Linked DNA regions of Homo sapiens: all the other regions are linked to region 2. The links come from fine-mapping of genetic effects on gene expression. A gene starts in region 2. Each other region holds a variant in brackets. All regions are shown on one strand. Distances are between the middles of the regions.

What was found. PIP is the estimated chance that this variant, and not a neighbour inherited with it, causes the effect.
Region 1: its variant is the best candidate, but not a certain one, in a credible set for the expression of PSIP1 in whole blood (INTERVAL, PIP 0.53).
Region 3: its variant is the best candidate, but not a certain one, in a credible set for the expression of PSIP1 in whole blood (TOPMed, PIP 0.62).
Region 4: its variant is the best candidate, but not a certain one, in a credible set for the expression of PSIP1 in whole blood (TOPMed, PIP 0.54).

The regions. Positions count from the first base shown.
Region 1 is chr9:15,480,863-15,484,862 of GRCh38, forward strand. The region is part of intron 6 of PSIP1 (PC4 and SRSF1 interacting protein 1); the gene reads right to left. Among named protein-coding and RNA genes, the nearest start is that of PSIP1, 28 kb to the right of the region's middle. The variant C/T (reference allele first, on the strand shown) is at 2,116.
Region 2 is chr9:15,509,449-15,513,860 of GRCh38, forward strand. It overlaps PSIP1 (PC4 and SRSF1 interacting protein 1), which reads right to left and starts at 1,522. Exons shown (of 16, transcript NM_033222.5): 1 at 1,369-1,522; 2 at 669-881. The coding sequence starts at 740. RefSeq lists enhancers at 635-1,588, 1,589-2,541, 3,194-3,812 and silencers at 648-847, 948-997, 1,128-1,187, 1,198-1,407, 1,428-1,507.
Region 3 is chr9:15,694,660-15,698,659 of GRCh38, forward strand. CCDC171 (coiled-coil domain containing 171) reads left to right here. Exons shown (of 26, transcript NM_173550.4): 11 at 576-678. Among named protein-coding and RNA genes, the nearest start is that of CCDC171, 140 kb to the left of the region's middle. The variant C/T (reference allele first, on the strand shown) is at 2,422.
Region 4 is chr9:15,487,854-15,491,853 of GRCh38, forward strand. PSIP1 (PC4 and SRSF1 interacting protein 1) reads right to left here. Exons shown (of 16, transcript NM_033222.5): 4 at 2,133-2,271. Among named protein-coding and RNA genes, the nearest start is that of PSIP1, 21 kb to the right of the region's middle. The variant T/G (reference allele first, on the strand shown) is at 1,709.

The DNA of each region.
Region 1 (4,000 bases), 29 kb before region 2:
TGAACTGAAATTCATGCCACTGCATTCCAGCCTGGGCGACAGAGCAAGACTGTCTCAAAAAAACAAAACAAAACAAAAAACCTTTATATGGCAATTCCACTTCTACGAATGTATCCATTTCTTTATTAGTTTTTTAAACATTTCTTTAAATAACTGAAACATAATGAAGCATATTAAAAGTATTATTAAAACTCATCTAAGGTAACCCTTGAGTTGTTCTCAGAGAACACTGAAAATTCCTCCCTGAACATTATTAGCTCAGGTTTTATTTCTAGAATTTTAAGAACTTACAAAGTTGCCCTGCCCCAATCCTGATTCAATAGCTCTGAGTCAGGGAACCAGGATTCTGTGTTTTTATAAAGCTCCCCAGGTAACAAAGCTTAAGAACTCAAGACTGAGAGCTCTTTTCCTACTGAGGAGTTAAGAGGGCATAATTTGTCTAAAATTCAGTTATAACTGGTCAATTCTTTGGTGCAAAGAAGACTCTCTCCACTTACACTTTCTGCTTTTGGAAATAAATCAAAACACTGAATAAGAATTATAGGTAGGGTTGGGTGCAGTGGCCCATGCCTGTAATTCCCACTCAGCGCTTTGGGAGGCTGGGGCTAGCAGATCACGAGGTCAGGAGTTCGAGACCAGCCTGGCCAACATGGTGAAACCCCATCTCTATTAAAAATACAAAAATAAGTCAGGCACCTGTAATCCCAGCCACTCAAGAGGCTAAGGCAGGAGAATCACTTGAACCCAGGAGGCAGAGATTGCAGTGAGCTGACATCCTGCTACCACACTCCAGCCTGGGCAACAGAGCAAGACTCCGTCTCAAAAAAAACAAAGAATTATAGGTAAAAGAGATGGTTTTTAAGGAGGTACCAATAAGTGTAACAAGTTCATCAATAATAATTAAAACTATATTAACACTAATACTAAGAGATCAGCCCTACCATGCACGTGTGTTCATGACTATTATGGCAAAATCATGCAAGTCAGAACCATTCCTCATGAAAATAAAATCAAAGAATAATAAATATTTTATCTAAAGAAAGGACCAATGAAGTTATACGAAACATATATATTTAAAACTTTTCCACTCTTAGGATATGCTTAAATATTTAAACATCTTAAATGCTAATATCTTAAACTACTGACTACAGATTTATTTCTTCCATATTTTACTTGCTCTGAGACATCTAACCCTCATTTTCTCTTCATTTTTTACCCCTTTCTAGCTCTACCAGCTTCCTTGATCTTAACTAAAAACACACCACTTCACACACACACAAAAACCTCATGGGATTACTATTCAAATGTATTCATAAGTCCTCCACATCCTTGTTTTGCTGTATCTGTCCCACAAATCCTCAAGAGAGGTTACTATACAATTCTACCTTCTCTGTTCTATTATTCCCAGCTGCTGAAGCCTGCTGGGAAAAAAAAAATGTACAAACATGCATTCATTTTATGCAATCTCAGTTGAGATCTCAAAGTCACTTTACCCTATCTGATCAGGCCTCCTCCTCCCACCAACAGCTGCATAATTTACTCAATCTATTCTTCCCGACTTGTACCACATCCAAAGTCTTGCTTTGATGTGGATGGGGCAGAAGGGAGTAAGGGCTGTAGAAAGGAATTCCCTTAATTTCCTAGTGTCCCAAGAAATTTTCAGAGCCTCCTCCATCCCTCCCCTTCAGTGTTAAGAGACTGAAACATCCATCTCCTCCTTGTTAAGTCAGTTCCTTCAAATGTCCCCTCCATTCTCTCATCCAACATGTATTTACATAAAATAATTTATACTGACTCCACATCTTTGATCTTTCCTAATTTTGCAGAGAAAAAGTGTTAAGGCATTTACTGTCTTTTGTCATTTTAACACTTTCCCTTAGCTATGAAAATCCCTATTATGTTGCCACATTCTCCTTGCCTTCAAAGATTTAAAAAGCACAGTGTAACTTTACCATTAACATTTATTCTCTAACCCCTTAATCTAGTTTCTGTCCTTACCATTCAACTAAATGGAGTTCACCTGAAAGTATCCTAGAGCAGCCTATGTGGCAAGTATCTTACTGGTACCCTCTCTAAATCAGGACATTACTGACCACTTCTTCATTCTGGACATTC[C/T]CCCTTCCCTTGTTTAGCTTGATACCCTCTTAGATTTTCTCTTGACAGTTCATTCTCAGCCATAATTTCACAGAGCAACCTTTCCCCCTCTCCATTATATTCCTTCAGGATTCTGGTTTCTGCATCCTCTCAATAAACCGTTCTCCTTTGACCTCATCTATTACCCTATCTTCATGCCAGAGACTGCATCTGTAACTTACATCTTCTCCCTCTTTGGTGCCAGAACAATATATATATCTCTTCACTCCAGTTCCCACAGGTGCTTCACCTTCCCCTTACTCATGCCTATGATTCCAAACCAACATCCTCTGCACTCCCAATAACTAGCTTATTCAAGTAAAGACCTTAGAGCCACCTTAGATTCTAGTTCCCTCCCCCGCCCCCTTTACCATCCACTTCTCATCAACCATCAACTTAACCTCTTAAAGTGCTCTTAAATCCCATCTCTCGTCTACACCACTTAAAAAATCTATAAGATCCTTGTCCTTCCAGTCTCATGCCAACTCCTTAGAAAGGCCTTTTGTAGCCTAGTCTGTTGCCAACTCATTAACTCCCCATTTAAACCCTCTTATTTTAAATATTTATTTTTTGTCTAAAAAAAAATGTAAGTTCAATGGAAACAAAGACCTTGTCTTCTTTACTGACTACTCAAATCCATGCCAAGTCCAGTAAAGTTAGTACTAAAATTCTGAATGAATTTTACAGTGAACTGGTCTCACTGCCCCAATCCAATCCCCATCGTTCACACTGCTTTAAAAAAATGACGCATTCTTTGGGAGGCTAAGGAAGGCGGATCACAAGGTGAGGAGTTCAAGACCTGGCTGACCAACATAGTGAAACCCTGTCTTTACTAAATATACAAAAAATTAGCTGGGTATGGTGGCGGATGCCTGTAATCCCAGCACTTTGGGAGGCAGAGGTGAGCAGATCACTTGAGGCCAGGAGTTTGAGACCAGCCTGGCCACCATGGTGAAACCCCATCTCTACTAAAAATACAAAAATTAGCCAGGCGTGGTGGTGCACGTCTGTAATCCCAGCTACTCAGGAGGCTGAGTGAGGCAGGAGAATCGCTTGAACCCGGGAGGTGGAGGTTGCAGTGAGCTAAGATCATGCCACTGCACTCCAGTCTGGGTGACAGAATGAAACTCTGTATCCAAAAAAAAAAAAAAACAAATTTATATTTAAAAAAAAAAAGAAAAAAGAGGCATCAAGTTGTGTACAGAGGCTCACATCTGCAATCCTAGTGCTTTGGGAGGATCACCGAGGCTGGGAGTTAGAGATCAGCCTAGGCAACATAGCAAAACCCCATGTCTATCAAAAAAAAAAATATATATATATAGGCCAGGCCCGGTGGCTCACACCTGTAATCCCAGAGCTTCAGGAGGCTGAGATGGGCAGATCACCTGAGGTCAGGAGTTCGAGATAAGCCTGGCCAACATGGTGAGACCCCATCTCTACTAAAAATACAAAAATTAGCTGGGCGTGGTGGCTCACACCAGCACTTTGGGAGGCCGAGGTGGGTGGATCACTTGAGGCCAGGAGTTCAAGACCAGCCTGGCCAACATGGTAAAACCTCATCTCTCCTAAAAATACAAAAAAATTAGGTGTGCATGGTGGTGTGCACCCGTAATCCCAGCTAATCGGGGGGCTGAGGCAGGAGAATCACGTGAACCTGGGAGGTGAAGGTTGCAGTGAGCCGAGATGGCGCCACTGCACTTCAGCTGGGGCAACAGTGTGAGAATCCGTCTCAAAACAAAAACAAAAACAAAACAAAAAAATACAAAAATTAGCTGGGCATGGTGGTGCATGCCTGTAATCCCAGCTACTTGGGAGGCCGAGGCAAGAGAATTGTTTGAATTCGGGAGGTGGAGGTTGCAGTGAGCCA
Region 2 (4,412 bases):
TGAGGAATCTGGTCCACACCTCCTTTTTGCCTATTGGAAACAAAAAGGTAAAACAACTTCTTCAAGGTCATAAACATCTCAAATAAAAAAGGAGAAATGAATTTTCTGGCCCTTCCTCGGTACTAAACTACTGTAATACTTTCAAGAATATCCAGTCCTGAATCTGTATTAAACAAGCAAATCCAGAAGGCCTCATCAAGTACAAGGTATTTTTTTTAAAACCCTGTAAATCCAATTTAATCACATACGCACTTCTCTGACATCCAAGTGTTTGTGTGTAATCTGCACAAATTCCATTGATATTTTGTACTTGATCCAAAACTATGGAAATGTCAATGTTTCACTAATTTTTAAACAAAAATTCACTCTTCATTATTTCACCTACAATGGAATATTAACTAGCAACGCATTTAAATATTTCCTAGGAAGAAAATCTGTCCAAGTCTGCCAATAAACCATAGGGAAATACACAGGTATGTAGAAACGTCTGGATTTTCATAATTACACGGGAGATTATTGGGCAAAAAACTAAAATGAAAGGTCAGGTTACAAATGAGACTAAAGCGAGGGAGAGAAAGGACAGAAGAAAAAATAAAGAGACACGGTGGGCAGCAGGCCTCTGGAGAGGAGGGTAGCACTGCTAAGCGCGAGGGCTACAAATCACTTACTCGAGCTGGCCAATGGGGATAACCTTTCATCTTGGCGAAGATGAGGTCTCCAGGTTTGAAATCGCGAGTCATGTTTCGGGGGCGAGACCGGGGGTCCGAAGCCCGGGAGGCGGCGAGGAGATGCGGCGGCGCGGGGATGCGGGCGGCGGACGCGGGCCCAGCTACCGGGCCCGCGGGCGGGGGAGGATGCCTCGGGGCGTCCCGACGCGCCTGCTAGGGAGAGCACCGAGGGCGGTTAAAGCGAAGAACCCCGAAGGGAGGGGCCGCAAGGGGAGGGGGAGGGGAACCGGCGGGTGGGGGTGGGAGAGCGAGGGGACGGCCGCCTCCCGCTCCTCCCCCGCCAGTGCGCTGCCTCCGCGCTGGAGCAGGTCCTCCACCCCGCCACCGAAGAGACGCCACCACCTGAAGCAGGGATGCTGCCCGGCCAGAAATCGCCCGTCTGCCCGCCCCATCTTTCTCCGGGCTTTTTCCACCGAGCTTAAGCCCCAAAAGGGAGGGGGTGCATGGGAGAGAAAAAGGCAGGGATTCCGAGAAGCGAGCGGCCCCCTTCCGCCCACGCAAGGCCTCCCCCGCAACCTGCTGCCCAGCGGCTGCAGCCTCGGCCCCCTCGGCTCCCGGGCGGGCCGCGTCCACTTCCCCGCTACAGCCAGGAGCGACGCCACCGAGGGGGGGGCGGGGCGAGTCCCCGTCGCCCGCTCACCTGCCGGGGCCGCGGGCGCCGACGCTGCGGTTGCTGGCCGGTCGCCTCTACCCGCGTCCACGCAAGCCACCTGCGCCACCAGCTGCCGCAGAGGCGTCTCAACGGCTCGGAATCGCAACCGCGCCGCCGCTGCCGCCGCCGTAGCTGCGCTGCTCCCGCGCGGCTCCCGCTCGGCGCCCGCTAGCACTGGGGCGCGACCAACTGTTTACCGAGAGAGGGGGGATGTTGCAGCACCCGGCGAAGCTGTGTGGCTCCGAAGCGGATTTTCTGGAAACCCTACGTCCCCAAGTTCGCTTTCATGTAACAGGTGCATGCAGATGGAGAGGAAGACGCAAGCGAAGAAGAAAGGACTGGGCGAAAATAGCTCGGCCTGCCGCAAGTTCCCCCTGCGGTTTGCGGAGTGGTCGGGCCCGGCCCGCCCCTGCTGGCTTCTCTGCGTGTGTGTATTTGTATGTGTACTGTATGTAAAAGGCGGGGAGGGAGGAAATGATTGTTGTGGACGCGGTTTTGGGGGCGGGTATCCGGGCCTCTCTCCCTTGGCTGCGTGTTAGGGAGAAAGTGGCAGTAAAGATTCATGTTCTTGTATCGTTTCCAGGGTGGGGAGGTTTGAATGCTGCTTTTGCGCGGTTTGCATCATCCAAAAAAGAGGAGCTGTACGAAAACCCTAAGATGAAATTGGAGCATGCGGCGGTTGCAGGGTGTGCTGCATCTAGGCCTCTTGCACCTCGCTGAATGGGCCTCGTAGTCTCCTTTTCCTTGAAATTGTAGTATGAGAGAGCCCTATTTCATTTCTTTTGCATTTGCATCACCAAGAACTATTAAGAAAAATGCAACCCTACTGAATGCAAAATGCGAAGGGTAGAAAACAATGACAGGAAAACAGAAACCTTTTAGATAGGATGTGAGTTTGGGCCCTAACTAAATTTTAGCTGCATCTAAATTTTATTTCCCTAGTAGAATAGGAGCTGGTAGGTGGTACAATGTGTAAGTGTTACTAAACCTCAAATATTTTCTCTCTTAAAATGCTCTTCAAGGGATTTTAAAGGTTAATTTTTTGATCCTTTAGAGAGGCTGAAAATATTTTTAAAAAGAATGTTAAGACATATAAAAATAAGAATAATAAGACATATATTAGCACCTAGATAATACTGTTTTAAATACGGGACTCAACTGGAAATGAATTAGGAAATTTTTTTTGAATTGGTAAAAATTGAGAATTTTTTGAAAGCGATACAGCATGTCTTTAAAAAGGAATGAAAGAAGACAGTCCCAAAGTAAAATGTCCTGTAAGGAGTTTCGAGAAACTAAGTATACCTGGGCAATATGCAGAGAGTTCCAAGTGGAGCAAAAAGAGAAATTGGCAGAGGAGAAGGAAGGGTTGGTGAAATGTCTTGAAGCTTCTCATTCTGAATATGAATTTAATGTGTGTAGTAGGAAGCTACTATAGGTTGCTCAGCAAGAAGGGGGTAAAAATGATTATTTAACCAGTTCTTGATGTTTCAAGGTAGATGTTAGTAGAAAGAGGCTGGGGGTAACTGGAGTACTCATGAAATGACGCATTTCTCAGTGAGAATGGTGACTAAGAAAAGGGAAGGAAGAGCACAACTAAGTAATTACACAAAGGAATGATTGTCAGGTGTTGGCTATAAATTATGCATAGGAAAAGGTGGAAAAAGATGTATTGAAGAAAAGCTCAAGATACAGAGTAAGAGAGACCAAAGCAGCATCCAGCAATCATTTTTTTGTGTGTATGCACTTTATTTGTTCTAAACCCTGTAAGGCCTTGCTACTTCAAGTGTGGTCCAAGGCCCAGCAGCAAGGGCTTTACCTGGGAGCTCAGGTAAAGCTCAGACCTTCCCCAGGCCTTCTAAATCATAATCTGCGTTTTAACAGGATCCCTAGGTGATTCTTACGCATATTCAAGTTTGAGAAACTGCTTTAGAGGATACCTCAGACTGTAAAAACTTCAAACTAAGAAAAACAGATATATAACAAGTTATAATTAACGTTAAAGATAACTTTTTATTAGTACTAATGGTAGGATTAACAGGTAAAGAGGGGGTAGTTAGTGTTAGAGGGGACCTCAGAAAAGAAATAAAAAAGGGAAAATGGAAAAGCATTGATGTTTTACTATTAGTATTTTCTGTTGTTTTTGTTGTTTTAAAAAAAGGAAGTACCATACTTAGCTCCTGCTGCCTTTAAGTTTTGTCCGCTTCAACCTGTGGTAGTTTGTGAACAACAGGAGATACCCTTTAAACAATAAAGGCAAAACAGGTGGTGGTTTAAGCTTCCAGAGAACAAAAGCCCAGGATCCCTGGGAGCAACAGTTCTGAATCTGCGAGGAAAGGGGGGGGGAGGGGAGGGGAGGGGAGGGCAGGGAACGGGGAAGGAAAGCTGGGCACATCCTAGCCACTTGGGAGAGCTTTTCTGTGCTCTTTTCCAGCTATGCTTGGTGCAGCCCTCTCCCATAGTCAGCCTTCTTAGTGGGGATACTTGAAAAAGTATACCAAAATGGAGATCAGAGGAGCAATGGGAAAGTTATAAGGAGAAAGAGTGTAATTTCCAAAACAACTGAAGCAAGGGGAGGGGGCAGGAAAATCCAAATGAGTTGAGGCAGGAACTTGGCCTACATTATCTCATTTAACCCAAGTGCCACTATCCCCATTTCACAGATGAGAAAATAAGCTCACAGAAGGTAAGCAGCTAGCTTGCCCAAGATCACACATCTAGTCCAGGGGCTGAGGCAACATTCTAGCCCCTCTGGCTACTTGCCCATGCCATTTTTGTGATCCCACATCGCCTCTAGGTGGGGCAGGGAGGCAGCAAGGCTGAAGGAGGAGTGGCTTATAATTAGAAAAGATGCTGGAAGGAAAAGCAGCCCAGTACTTACTCTTCCACCTTCCACCTTTGGGCTTGAAAGTATTCCCAGCTTCAAATTTCCTAACAACCTCCCTCCACACCATGCCATTCCCCAGCTTGTCCCCAGCACGAGACCATTCTGTTTAACTCCTTCTGGTCCTAAAAAACTCAACCCAAAAATCACC
Region 3 (4,000 bases), 190 kb after region 2:
CCAGTCCAATCAGTGTGGTCTAACCCAATGCAGTTTTACTAAAGTCTGGCCATTCTACCATCTTAGTCTCTGTCCAGTGCTTCCATTCCCTACCCCTTCTTCCCCTTTCACTGTCAATACCCTAGACCAAAGTACTGTCACTTGACTGCTGCAGTAACTTCAAATTGGTCTTAACTGTCTTCACTTTTGACTGCCATCTGGCAACTTGCCATATGACTGTAGTCATGATTTTTTAAGTGTTCCATAATTCCTCTGTCTCAGTTTTCTTGTCTCTAAAATTGGGATAATAATAGCCTTTCCATCATAGGGTTATTGTGAGGATAAAATGAATTACTATATATAAAACACTTAGAATAGTGCCAGGCACTAACTCCTCAGTAAATTGTTAATAAGACCTTGTACAGTGTTACATTAAGCCAAGTAAAAGGTATGATTAAGAGAGAAAGATGGTTTATTAATAATATATTTGAATGGAATCATTATCTTGTTTATACTTGTGTTATATATGTTCACACTAAAAATATGCAGCTCTTATAATACGTGACCTTATGTGTAATTTTTTTCTTAATTAAAAGGCTAAGAAGCACCAGGCCTTCCTAGTAGAGACATGTGAAAATAACGTGAAAGAATTGGAATCGATCTTGGACAGCTTTACTGTGTCGGGCCAGTGGACATCAGGTTAGTTGAAGGTATAAAATGACAGATGCATCTGTCAATGTTCCAAAGTCACTACATTTTGGGAATTCTGCAGATGCCTCTTGTAGTCCCTCATCTCAACATGTTTTGATTTGATGACATGATAAGAGCAGTTCTCACAGCAGTCAGTTGGCCTAGCTGGCTGAGAAAGGGTGACGGAATATGGACCTGCTGTTGTCCTCCCAGAACTTGATTTACAAGTGTTGGGGTGTGTGTGATTGGACAGACAAGGGCTCACTTGCTGTGTTCTGAATCCAACTGAGAAAAAAGTCCTTACAGTATACCTGCAAGGGGAACAGATGTTTCGATCAAACTGAGCCAAATTCTGAGGCAACCTTCAGCAACTTAAAGGTCATGCATTTAAAAGGTTATGTAGGACACAGGCTGTAGCATAGCGCATGTTCTATACTTTCCAAGCCGGTTTTCTAAGCTGGTTTTCATTTCCTACTACCATATACATATACTGTCCAGATAAGAATGCTTAGGTAGAATATTTTAGTTGTAGTTATTAGCCCACTTCATATGATAAAGAGCTATAAAATTATATATTAATTAGGTAGACATATTTTGAGAACTAGCAAAAGCAATGGCTGGCTAATGAATTCTGTTCACTATTTCTACTTTCTTAGTGTTTTGTGTTTATGTTATTATGTGTGCTATAGTAGCTTTGACATAAATACTTTTCTACCTCAGTTTTCTTTTGCCCTGCTTTCAGCCCTGAATTATTTGGTGGTCTTCTAACACAATTCTATTCTTCAAAAGGCACATAAAATTAAATTTCTCACTCTTAAAAATTGAGAAATTTAAGAAAACATTTTTAAAAGGAATCTAACAGCAATTTGGCAAATAAGTTCTTTAGAGAGCTCTTAAGTTCAGGAAGTTTTTGTCCTTGAAAACTTGGAAGGACCTCATCAAGGTTCATATTTTGCCTTGTGGATCTGTAGATTTCTCAGTTGGTAAGCTATTAGAAATGTAGTGTGCTTTGCTATTGTCTATGTTTTAAGTCTCTGTGTTTTTAGCTTTTATGAAATTAATGTGTAACTATCTTTGTTTTTATGTAAACTTTTCCCAAAAGCATTACTGTATCATAATCATAATTTGTTATCATGGACAAATCAAAAGATATAAAAGTGTCATAAAAGTAGGTGCAGGTATCCAGTTTCAATTATATTTGTTACAGCTTTGGAGGAGAAAATTTTCCTTTGCACTGGTACTTTTTTATTATTGAGATGTATCAGTGGTGTTTAATGGTGTTAGGATCTTTAAAAATTGTTAAATATTGTCGCAGTATAGCATATGCCTCAATATTATTTTAAATATTTCTTCAGAGTTGAATTAGAAAAGCTAAGAATAATGTGGTCATGTCTCGTTTGAGTTTTAAAGTAAAATAGTTGGTAACAAAGCAACTCAGAAGTTATTACTAAGCCTACAGAATTTTCTATTAAAATTTTAATTTTTATTCTTTTATTAACCATCCTTTTTTATCTTTATCTTCCTAATTTTCTGTATAGATGCATACTTTGTGTATTCCAGGGAATGTGTTCCTGCGAAAGGACTGTGCACTGAATTAGTGATTTTTGGATTGTTACAGAGTGGTAACATGTTTCCATTTTGTGCTGATTTTTCTCTCCTTTACACCCTTCTCCCCTTGCTGATCCATTCTCCTCTGTTCTGTTTTGCTGTGTGCCTTGGGAGGCTGCCTTCTGTGGATCTGGGCTCCTTTAC[C/T]TTCTGGCTTCTGGTTAGGTTTGGACAGTAGGTGCACCCACAGGAGATTAAGGGAATGACAGAATAAAGCAGTCGAAGTGTTTATTTCCTCTGCTTCCTCTGCTCCACTGCATTTTTGGCAGTGGCTTCATTTTTCAGCAGCCACAGTGCCTGTTGGGTGGGCCCTCTTTCATGGCTGTGGCTCTTGTTAGACTATGGTGACATTCTCTCCACTTGACCTTTTAAGCTAAGACATAATATTAGTTTTCTACTCTTGCTTGCTTTTGGTGCCTCATCATACCTTTTGGGATCTGTTAACCTGTACACATTTCTGTAGTCTCGTCATTAAACTATCTTGCTGATGACCTCTTCTGAGTATTTAATTTACATCCTGATTGATTTACATAACTCCTTGGGATCTGGTTTCATTCCTCCTATTGGCTTGCATAAAACAGCTCTGTGCCTTTATAATGGACTCTGTTTCTGCTCAGATTGGGTTTTTGTTACATAAGCAAAAAAGTGAGTCACGAGTTTTTCGGCTTCCCAGTATGTTTGAATGTTATGTTTATACTATAGTGTAGTCCATTAAGTTGTGAGAGCATTATGTCAAAAAATCCACATACCTTAATTAAAAAATACATTATTGCCAAAAAATGCTGATGATCATCTGAGCCTTCAGTGAGTCATAACCTTTTTGCTGGTGGAGAGTCTTGCCTTGATGTTGATGGCTGCTGACTCATCAGGGTGGTGGTGGCTGAAGGTTGGGTTAGCTGTGGCAATTTCTTTTTTGTTACCTAAAAAATGGATACAGAATAATTTTACATACTTTCATACACATTTATGGGGTGCATGTGATATTTTGATACATGCATGAAATATGTGTAATCATCAAATCAGGGTATTTAAGATACCAGTCACCTTGAACATTTAGCATTTCTTTCTATTGGGAACATTTCAAATCTTCTGGCTATTTTGAAATATAAAACGTATTGTTGTTAACTGTAGAGTTCAATACTGTGCTATTGAACTCTAGAACTTATTTCTTCTAACTATATGTTTATACCCATTAATCTACCTCTCTTCAATACCATCCTCCACACTGCCACTAGTAACCACCATTCTACTCTCTACCTCTGTGAGATCTGCTTTTTTAGCTCTCATGTGTGAGTAAGAACATAAGGGCCAGGCGCGGTGGCTCACGCCTGTAATCCCAGCACTTTGGGAGGCCGAGGGGGGTGGATCACGAGGTCAGGAGATTGAGACCATCCTGGCTAACACGGTGAAACACCGTCTCTACTAAAAATACAAAAAATTAGCCAGGCGTGGTGGCGGGTGCCTGTAGTCCCAGCTACTCGGGAGGCTGAGGCAGGAGAATGGCATGAACCTGGGAGGCGGAGCTTGCAGTGAGCTGAGATCGTGCCACTGCACTCCAGCCTGGGCAACAGAGCAAGACCCCGTCTCAAAAAAAAAAAAAAAAAAAGGAACATAGGATATTTGTCTTTCAGTGCCTGGCTTATTTAACTTAACATAATGACCTCCAGTTTTATTTACGTTGCTACAAATGACAGGGTTTCATTCTTTTTTATGGCTGGATAGTATT
Region 4 (4,000 bases), 22 kb before region 2:
ATTATGATATGGTTCGATGAATCCATTAACAAGTAAGTACTGGGAAGTAATAAAGTCACTAATCATTTAATGTGGCCTTGGAGCAGCAATGAAAGATTTATATGTTCCAGATAGAACAGTATCTAAAAAGTTCTCCAAGGTAAAGCATGGCACATGTGAAGAAATAAAATTTATCGGTTTAAAAGTAAAAAGCTAGGCCGGGCACAGTGACTTATGCCTGTAATCCCAGCACTTTGGGAGGCTGAGGTGGGTGGATCACGAGGTCAGGAGTTCAAGACTGGCCTGGCCAAGATGGTGAAACCCCATCTCTACTAAAAATACAAAAATTACCCAGGCACGGTGGCAAAGCGCACACGTAATCCCAGCTACTCAGGAGGCTGAGGCAGGAGAATTGCTTGACCTGGGGGGCAGAGGCTTCAGTGAGCCGAGATCACGCCACTGCACTCCAGCCGGGGTGACAGAGTGAGACTCCATCTCAACAACAACAACAAAAAAAAGAGTAAAAAGCTGCAGAATTTCCACTTTGTTGCTACCTCGCTTCTTTAGATTTACTCGTGCTCTTCCTAGTTTTTGGACCTCAGGTCTTAAACAGAGGACGTTTATTGATGAAAGAGAAACTGTCCCAATTATCTTCATAAAGACCTCTCATAGCCCTCTGATCCTATTATAAAGCCATCTGTTTATTTTAAATCGTAAGAGTTCTGGAACATTCATTTGGGAATATATGCAACAATTCAAGAGTGCAATCGACAATATAAAAAATTTTTCTAAGCCTATAATCCCAGCACTTTGGGAAGCCGAGGTGGGCAGATCACAAGGTCAGAAGATTGAGACCATCCTGGCTAACAAGGTGAAACCCCGTCTCTACTAAAAATACAAAAAATTAGGCTGGACACAGTGGCTCAGGCCTGTAATCCCAACACTCTGGGGGGCCGAGGCGGGCGGATCACAAGGTCAGGAGATCGAGACCATCCTGGCTAACACGGTGAAACCCCGTCTCTACTAAAAATACAAAAAATTAGCCGGGTGTGGTGGCGGGCACCTGTAGTCCCAGCTACTCGGAAGGCTGAGGCAGGAGAATGGTGTGAACCCGGGAGGCGGAGCTTACAGTGAGCCAAGATAGAGCCAATGCACCCCAGCCTGGGCGACAGAGCGAGACTCCTCTCAAAAAAAATAAATTTTTTCTAAATCACATCAATACCAACACAAAGGAGAAGTAAGAGAACCAGTGTTTTCTGTAGGATAAAAACAATACAAATTGGATAAAGGCAAACCACTCCATGAAAATTTACTATAACATATAAATTAATAAAAGCTCTGGACCCATGGGAAAAACCACAGAAAAGAAGGTATAAGGTGGCTGCTGACACCAATAAATATAATTTGCATAGTGCTGTAAGTACATTTGTCACATACCAATTTAACTCATGAGGTTCATATTCCAATACAATTCTATGGATTTAGAAATTAAAGGCTGCGCGCAATGGCTCTCATCTGTAATCCCAGCATTTTGGGAGGCTGAGGTGGGTGGATCACCTGAAGTCAGGAGTTTGAGATCAGTCTGGCCAACATGACAAAACCCTGTCTCTAGTAAAAATACAAAAAGTTAGCCAGGCGTGGTGGCGGGCACCTGTAACCCAGCTACTTGGGAGGCTGAGGCAGGACAATCACTTGAACCCGGGAGGCATAAGTTGCAGTGAGCCAAGAT[T/G]GCACCATTGCACTCCAGCCTGGGCAACAAGAGCGAAACTACACCTCAAAAAAAAAAAAAAAAAAAAGAAATTTAATTAATTAATTAAAGAGAATAAGAAAACTTAGGCATACACCATGTAAGTCGCAAAACCTAAATTTAGAACAGTACATACAGCTTTATATTCAATGACGTATTAAACCCTCTATCAGGAGTTAAATAACTGAATAGTTCCCAGTTTCTTGAGATCTGTTTAACTACATAAAATAATGATTTTGTCAATTCATTTTGATATAAAATGCCCAAGGTTCAACCTCACAAATAAGAACACAACAAACTAGTATGAAATTCCCAAGGCTTTTAGTATTTACTTTCCTACAGCTAGGATAGTGATTATTCCCCAGGATTAAATAAGTAATATCAAATTTTATGTAATATGACTTACCTGTTGACTTGAAAATTTCACTTTTGGATTGTTATCTATCTCCCATAAACCTTCATTAAAACCTTTTCTTTTATTTGGTTTGCCATACTTTTCCTTATTTTCTGAGTAAGGAAATATATCCTTTGGTCCTAAAAAAGCACTAAAAAAGAAGTGGGGAAGATGTGAGTGCAAAGCAAGCTCAAATACATAATTTATTAGATAAGACACCCTATTACACAATTATCAAAAATACAGAACCTAAACTGCATTACAAATCTTAAATAAGTTAAAGGGCAATTAATAATTCCAAATACTTTTATTAAATTCAGTAACAAGCTACTATTTAAATCCATAATCCTATTAAGTAAAACCACAGACGTTGCACAATGTGAATGTACTTAACACTGCTGAACTATACACTTAAAAATGGTTACATCGCCATGCGTGGTGCCTTACGCCTGTAATCTCACCACTTTGGGAAGCTGAGGCGGGTGGATCACTTGAGGTCAGGAGTTTGAGACCAGCCTGGCCAACATGGTGAAACCCCATCTCTACTAAAAATACAAAAATTAGCCGGGCGTGGTGGCGTGCACCTGTAGTCCCAGCTACTTGAGAGGATGAGGCAGGAGAATCGCTTGAACCCGGGAGGCGGAGGTTGCAGTGAGCTGTGATCACGCCACTGCACTCCAGCCTGGGTGACAGAGTGAGACTCTGTCTCAAAAAAAAAAAAAAAAAAAAAAAGGTTAATTCAATAAATTTGGGTTTTTTTAAACTACAAACTTTGACACATTAGCATTAATCAACACATTTAACTGCACCCCAAATATAGTTTCACTTCAAAATAACTTCGTATATTATACAACTCACAAAACTATCGTGTTTTTAAAATAATCAGTGAGTATGTTAAGAATTTTATTTTACTGAATGAGGGAATCAGACATATTATAACCCATTCATTCATATATGTACTATCAATTTTTGCTATCTGTGGTAGTAATGTTCTATAAAGTCACTGTGAAAACTGAATTAGCAAATACACAACCATTGCTCCTAGGGGAAATACAGGGTTAGGTTCCTGTAATCACAAGGTTTTCATGAACCAATCAATACATAAATTCATTTTATGTGTGTTTCTGTTTAAAGACACCTTATTTAATACAGACTGCTAACTCATTAACACTGAACTCATAGCCAACAGCGTATGTAACATGCGCTTTCTCTGTAAAGCACATTATAACCTTCTCGCACTTAGCAACATGAAAGAACACTTTAGCATTATGCTTGGGAGCTAGTTTAAATAGCAAAATGACCAACAAAAGCAAAAAAATGCATGGCAATAAACAGACTGCAAAAAAGATACTTGCTTACAGTATGAGTGCTGAAAAAAGAAGGCAAGCATTCCCTTGTACAACCTCAGCTAAGAATGTGTTGTATCAGGAGACTCAAGTCTTTCCACTACTCAGTGCATGTTTGTGAATGACCTGTACAACAAGTACTACTGATCTGGGCTTACAAATAATTTTGGTGAGTAGGTACATTCGCAAATATGGAATCCACAAATAACGAGCCTCAACTGTTTGCATATGTGTGTACATATATACACAGATAGTTCTTAATTTACTAGGAGGTTATGTCCCAATAAGTCCACTGTAAATCTAAAATATCTGAAGTCAGAAATCCATTTAAGTAACCATGAAAAACCCACTCTAAAGTCAAAAAATCTAAGTTGAACCACTATAGGTGTGTTAGTCCATTCTCACGCTGCTATGAAGAAATACCAGAGACTGGGTAATTTATAAAGAAAAGAAGTTTAATTGACTCACAGTTCCACACGGCTGGGGAGGCCCCAAGAAACTTACAATCATGGCAGAAGGCACCTCTTCACAGGG